2 linked regions of the Homo sapiens genome follow. The protein of the gene in region 1 interacts with the protein of each later gene in a pairwise test. Each region holds a gene or a part of one and is shown on either strand. Other genes may lie near its edges.

Region 1 (3,500 bases):
TCCGAAAGTGCTGGGATTACAGGCATGAGCCACCGTGCCTGGCCTGTTCATGAAGTTTTATAGAATGAATACCTAGCTGTAGACTTATTGGATAAATGTCTTTATGTATATTTTAAAACTAAGAAATTTTAAATTTAAGATTTGAAAGCTATCACAAAATTGCCCTGGTTATAAGAATTTATATCCCCAGAAAATGAAATCAGTGTCCTTCCTCAAGCCTTGTTTTGATTTACATTTTTGTAATTACTAAGGTGACCAAACCTCCCCTGTAAATCATCCACTGACCTTTCCACTTTGCACTTTTTTTTTTTTTTTTTTGAGACGAAGTCTGGCTCTTGTCCCCAAGGCTGGAGTGCGATGGCACGATCTCGGCTCAATGCAACCTCTGCCTCCTGGGTTCAAGCGATTCTCCTGCCTTGGTCCCCCGAGTAGCTGGGATTACAGGCGCCTGCCACCACGCCCGGCTAATTTTTGTATTTTTAGTAGAGACAGGGTTTTACCATGTTGACCAGGCTGGTGTAGAACTCCTGACCTCAGGTGATCCACCCGCCTTAGCCTCCCAAAGTGCTGGGATTACAGGCATGAGCCACCGTGTCCAGGCTCCACTTTGCACTTTTTATCTCCTTTTACTGGTTTTAGCAGTTCTTTGTATAAGAGGGATTTAGGCCTTAATCATATATGCCACAAATTTTTCCCCAAGTTGATTGTCTTTAGATTTTGCATTTTACTTCGGAAAAAGTAAAACTTCATTTGCAATCACATATATGATTCTTTTTCTTGGAGGGGGTGGTCCACAACCTGCCTCCTTTGGTAGGCATATTAATATATTTTTTAGAATCAAATGCCTTTAGCTAAGGAATACATTCTCTGTTTCCCTACAGGATCCAGTACTATCCCATAAATGGGCTACTTCATAATTTTAAAGTTATCTTCCTGCCCCTTAAGACAGGGGTATAACTGTGTGTGTAGGTGTTTGTGGGTACATTTCCTCCAGAACTTTTATGGTTTTCTTATGCACATTTAAATTTTTGACCCATCTGTAATTTATTTTTGGTGGAATGAGTGTACACAACAGAGAACAGGGATGTTTTCCTGATCAGCAGCACAAGGGGGAGGAGATACCAATGCCAGTTTATAGATTTTTTTTTTTTAACAACAACATGCTTTTTGGCCCTTTACACAAGTAATGCAAACTCAAGGATTGTACCCATACTTCCACCACCCAAAACAACCACTTTTTTTTTTATTGCAACGTATTTTCTGCCAGCCTTTTTTTTTTCCTATAGTATATAGATTTTTGTTTCAGAAATCTCTTTTTTGTCTGTTTTTTTTGTAACGTGACAACATTTATAACTGCTAACAGTTAATGTTTTAACCTAGCAGCTCCCAAACCTGGCTGGGCAGCTGGCTTCCTGGTGGAGCTTGTTAAAAATAATGAATCAGCAACCCTAGGGGGTGGGCTCTGGGAATCTATATTTTTAACAAGTTCCATGGACGTGTTTGAGACACAGCCAGGCCAATTCTGGCCGACTCCCCCATGCTCCAGCTGTACCTGTGATTGTCTGGGTCTCCGAGGTGATGGTTCTGGTGGTGGTCTGAGTCTGGGTGGCAGGCACTGTTTCCTCCGATACAAACTGGACCGTGCTGGGGGCTGCTGCGGATGTGCCTGTCAGCTGGCAGCCACTTTGCTTGTGAGCTACAAAGGCATCCAGGTTGTTAAACTGCTGCTTGCAGATGCCGCAGATATGGATGTCGGGAGTCAGCTCCACCAGCACCGTTGTGCCACCTGGAACTCCATGGGACAAAGGGAAAGTAACGGATTAATTCCAAACAGCTTTGAATTGTAATGCAGACCAGATTCATGGTAGGAAGAAAAGGCATGGTGGCAGACATGGCTGGGTAGTGGCCCAGTATCCACTCCACCTTCCTCTTCCTGCGAACTGCATCCTAATTGTGCCCTAGCAGCAAGGTATCATATTTCCACACAGAGATTTCTTGCCTTAGTTAAACTTGGGGAAAATTGGACATAATGTAAATATCTTAGAAATCTTCAGAAAATTGGCCAGGCGCGGTGGCTCATGCCTGTAATCCTGGCACTTTGGGAGGCTGAGGCGGGCGGATCACCTGAGGTCAGGAGTTCGAGACCAGCCTGGCCAACATGGTGAAATCCCGTCTCTACTAAAAATACAAAAATTAGCTGGGCATGGTGGTGTGTGCCTATAATCCTAGCTACTCAGGAGGCTGAGGCAGGAGAATCACTTGAACCCAGCAGGCAGAGGTTGCAGTGAGCTGAGATCACACCATTGCACTCCAGCCTGGGGGACAAGAGTGAAACTCTGTCTCAAAAAAAAAATAATTTTTTTTTTCAGAAAATTATGATGCATAATTTTATCCAACCACATATGCACAAAGGTAGTCTTGTATTATTTAACTTGGGGAAAATTGGAAATAATGTATAGCAACCATCCATGTGATGGTTCACGCTGCATTGTTACCCATGGGGCACTAGTGGCATTGTTTGCAAGAAAGTTCTTTTATCAAAGATAAAAGGGATGTCCTGCACTTTGCAGAACCAGCAGCCACCTCCTATCCCAACTAAAAGGTAATTGTGAAAACTGATCCTCCCGCACATTTCCAAACATACTCACCCAAAACACATACTATGAGAACCAATAGTCTAAATAATCTTGGTCCTCTACATACTTGTGAACTTCTCCAGCACACAGCTGGAGGAGTTTCTGGGAAAAGTTTGGCATTTGTGATGAAAAGGGAGCAGATGTGGCTAGCAATGTGCCCCTTTTCTTCTGGCTTTGGATGCAAATGTGATGGTGGGGCTTCTGCAGCCATCTTGTAACTATGAGAAAAATGCCAAGATCCCTATGGGCTCTGCCCTTTACTTCACTGATTTCCCTGATTCAACACTGCAATCAATCAATTCCAGATTTCATTAGGCCAGTATAATTTGGGTTTCTGCTACTTGTAGCCAAAATTCATTCCTAACTGGCAGGGACATTATTTCTTTTTCTTTCTTTTTTTTTTTTTTTTTTTTTTTTGAGACAGAGTCTTGCTCTGTCACCCAGGTTGGAGTGCAGTGGTGCGATCTCGGCTCACTGCAAGCTCTGCCTCCCGGGTTCACGCCATTCTCCTGCCCCAGCCTCCCAAGTAGCTGGGACTACAGGCACCCGCCACTACGCTCGACTAATTTTTTGTATTTTTAGTAGAGATGAGGTCTCACCTGTTAGCCAGGATGGTCTCGATCTCCTGACCTCGTGATCTGCCCGCCTCAGCCTCCCAAATCCCTCCCTGGGATTACAGGAGTGAGCCACCGCACCCGGCCGACATTATTTCTTGATACTAATCATATCAAGAATTAATACTATATTAATACCTGGAAAGCACTTAGTGTAGTATTTGGCACTGTATTAGAAGCTACTATATAAATACTTGTTCAATAAAGACATAGCGGGTAGATCATGAGGTCAGGAGAGCGAGACCATCCT
Region 2 (3,500 bases), on another chromosome or scaffold:
TCTCAGGCTCTCGGGAGGCCACAGTGTCCTCCTCCCACCCTATGGTCCCCGACAGTCGCCCCTCTACACCCGGACAGCCCTTCCCCAGCAGCAGCCGTTCAGCCCCTGCCCTATTACCAGTGGGAAAGAGACTTGGAGGCTGGCAGATCCAAGTTCAAATCCCTTCTCCAACACTCCAACAGGCCTGCGGGCAAGCCACATCCCCTCCTCATCTGTCAGGTGGGCATGGGGCAGTACTCAGCCCATGGCAGTGCTGGGAAGTGGCATGAGCAAGGGACTTCAGGACTCATTAGCACTGGGGCTCTGATGTGGCCGTTTCACTAGCACGCATGGTTGCAGGAGTGTTCTGGGGGCTCTGGCCAACCAGTCCTCTGAGCTGCTTCCAGAGTTTCAGGCTGCATCAGGCAAGTTTCCGTTGTCATAACAACCTGCTGGCTCTCAGGCGCCTGGGCCTGAGGCTCTAAGGATGCTGCCGGCTACCGTGGGCTCACGGCCTGGACCTGCTCACCTACCAGCAGCCTGGACAACCTCTCCTGGAGGGGCTTCCGGCTCCTGGCACCGCAGCCCCTGCCTCTTGACTCATCTGATTCAGTCCTGCTTCCCAAGCCCATCCTGCGTGCCAAGCTCCGTGCTGTGCATGCGTCATCACCCCAAATCCCCACCCGCCTCTGTGCATCAGGACAGCCAAAGGCTCTATTTTCTGCTAAAAGAAGCAGGGTCTCAGAAAGGTGCAGTGACCCGTCGGAGGTCACATGGCTTGGGCATGTCAGGCCCAGGACAGAACCCCAAAGGTCAGGCACTCACACCCGTTTCCTCTCCAGATGCCCAAGCCCCTCTCCTGCTGCCTGGCACACACTGCCCCTGTGGTTGGAAAGCTGGCCCCTGCCAGCTCGGACAGAAGGGGCATGAGGCTGCCCACTGTCTGCTGGGATTGGAGCAGGAAGACCAGGCCACAGGATGTTGGGAGGACCCTGCCGAGTGGGCAGGCATGCCGGGCTTCTGCTGACAGTGCCAAACGTCACCTCGCTTCATTCTTACAGCAGGCCTGAAAGCTAGGAGCAGCTACCCCGCTTCACGGAGGAGGAAACTGGGCTCTGAGGGGTCTCGGGTAAACCCCCATGGTGCGGGCATGCGCCAGGGGCCGCAGCATAGGCCAGCAGAGGTGTGGTCACCTTCACCAACCTTCCCCTCGTCCCAGCACAGAAGTTTATTTTTTTTCCTTTCTTTCTTTTTTCTCTTTTGTTTTTGAGACAGGTCTCGCTCTGCTGCCAGGCTAGAGTGCAGTGGCGCGATCTCGGCTCACTGCAACCTCTGACTCCCCGGTTTAAGCGATTCTCCTGCCTCAGCCTCCCAAGTAGCTGGGATTACAGGCACGCACCACCATGCCCAGCTAATTTTTGTATTTTTAGTAGAGATGGGGTTTCTCCATGTTGGCCGGGATGGTCTTGATCTCCTGACCTCGTGATCGGCCCACCTCGGCCTCCCAAAGTGCTGGGATTACAGGCGTGAGCCACCGCGCCCAGTCAGAAGTGTCTATTATTATTCCCCTTTTGCAGTTGAGGACACTGAGGCTCTGGGAATCCGCACACTTGTGCTCCTAATCACCTGCCCCGCTGTCCCTGGATTTTCCACGCTGGCCTCAGAATCTCCAAGGGCAGCCATGGTCTTGATGTCTCCCAGTCCCCAGCACCCAACACAGGTGCCCCAGTTCTCTTCCTCAGATAGGACATGTACACAGCTGTCCAGGTCTTCCAGGGAGATCCCTGGGCAAGGACGCCCCTGTAGGAACCCCGGCTGGCCGCTGACCTTTCGAAGAGGTCTCACTGCTTCTTCCTTATTTCCTGAGTGGGTCTTCCAGGGCAAAGCGGGCCTGGAAAGGCCAAATAGCTGTTAGTTTGGGTTGGCTTTTCTCCCACCAAAGTCAAGGTGGGGTTAAGTCTCCCTGTCTGATCAGCCCCCTCCTGACCCTGCGCCTGCGTAGTATATGTCTCTGAAGCAGAGGGACATGGGGGTCTGTGAGCAAAACACTGGCATCTGGGAAATCAAGGCATGAGTGACCTGAAGCTTCACCCATTCAACCAACCGTCCTTCACCATCCACCCCTGTGACCGCTCACCCATTTACAGGTGCCATCCACGCACCAACACATCCTTCTGTCTCTGTGTCCCTCACCCGCTGATGGGCACTCATCTGTTCACTGGTCCTCTCACTCCCGTCTCCATCTGTCCGCCTGCCCATCCCTCCATGTCTGTCCATTCCTCTGTTACTTGTGTCTCGTATCCATGCATCCATTGCTTTGTATCCATTTGTGCACTGAGCTGCCTTCTCAGGCCTCTATCCACACATCCGTCAATATACACTCATCACCTATCCATGCACTCACTCTTCCAGTGTCCATTCATTCCTCTGTCCATCATTCATGGACATGTATTCAAGTATTCATCCACCCATCCCAACATCCAGGCACTACCTGTATCCATTTATGTATCCATTCCTTCATCCATCCATCCAAAGATCCTTCCATCCATTCATCTACCAATCTTGCCTTGTGTATCAGAAGTCTCCCTCCCTCCACCCATGTATCATCCATTGATATTTTGTTCTATCAATCCAGTCCTGTATCCATATCAACTTTTCCATCTGTCCACCCACCCATCCCTATCTTGCTACTTACATCCATCAACCTCTCCTCCCGTCCATCTATCCCTCTTTCTCTCTTTCTTTCTTTCTTTTCTTTTTTTCTTTCTTTCTCTCTCTCTCTTTCGTTTTTCTTCCTTTTTTTTTTTTTTTTTGATGGAGTCTCACTCTGTTGCCCAGGGGCTGGAGTGTAGTGGCACGATCTCGGCTCACTGCAACCTCACCTCTGCCTCCTGGGTTCAAGCAATTCTCCTGTCTCAGCCTCCCAAATGGCTGGAACTACAGGTGCACACCACCACACCCACCTAATTTTTTTTGTATTTTTATAGAGACGGGGTTTCACCATATTGGTCAGGCTGGTCTTGAACTCCTGACCTCAGGTGGTCCACTCACCTTGGCCTCCCAAAGTGCTGGGATTACAGGCGTGAGCCGCTGCGCCCAGCCTATCCCTCTAGGTTTCTACCCATCCATCCGCTGCTCTATCCTGCTAGTGCTTCCCTTCCATACAGTATCATCCACCCATGCATCCCCTTCAGCATGCCTGCGTTGCTTCTCCACCTCATGCACCTCTTAATCCCAGCATGCACCCACTGTGGGATGACCAGGCTTCCATGTCTGGCTTCCCCAGGCAAAGCCCAGGCCTGACCCATCTCCATCCCTGACTTGGGCTCAGGGCTTGCTGATTGAACCAATGACTGCAATTCCCCTGCTTGGCTCAGAGCTGGGCCCTGGCTGATCCCCACCCCAGGCAGACCACAGAGGCTGCTGTACTGTCCTCCAGACTCAAGGCCTGCTGAGGCAAGGGCCACTTTTGAGTTCCCTTCCTGGCTAGAGGGGAGAGAAGAGCCCCAGCAGCTCCTGAC

Evidence for each region.
Region 2: the proteins of ZFP64 (region 1) and BEGAIN interact in a two-hybrid assay, tested with the Homo sapiens proteins (one large-scale study listed by BioGRID and IntAct).

The regions. Positions count from the first base shown.
Region 1 is NC_000020.11:52,185,280-52,188,779, forward strand, and holds part of ZFP64 (zinc finger protein 64), read right to left. Parts: intron 1,793-3,500; coding exon 1,553-1,792; intron 1-1,552. UniProt on the Homo sapiens protein: May be involved in the regulation of mesenchymal cell differentiation through transactivation of NOTCH1 target genes.
Region 2 is NC_000014.9:100,580,918-100,584,417, forward strand, and holds part of BEGAIN (brain-enriched guanylate kinase-associated protein), read right to left. Parts: intron 1-3,500. UniProt on the Homo sapiens protein: May sustain the structure of the postsynaptic density (PSD).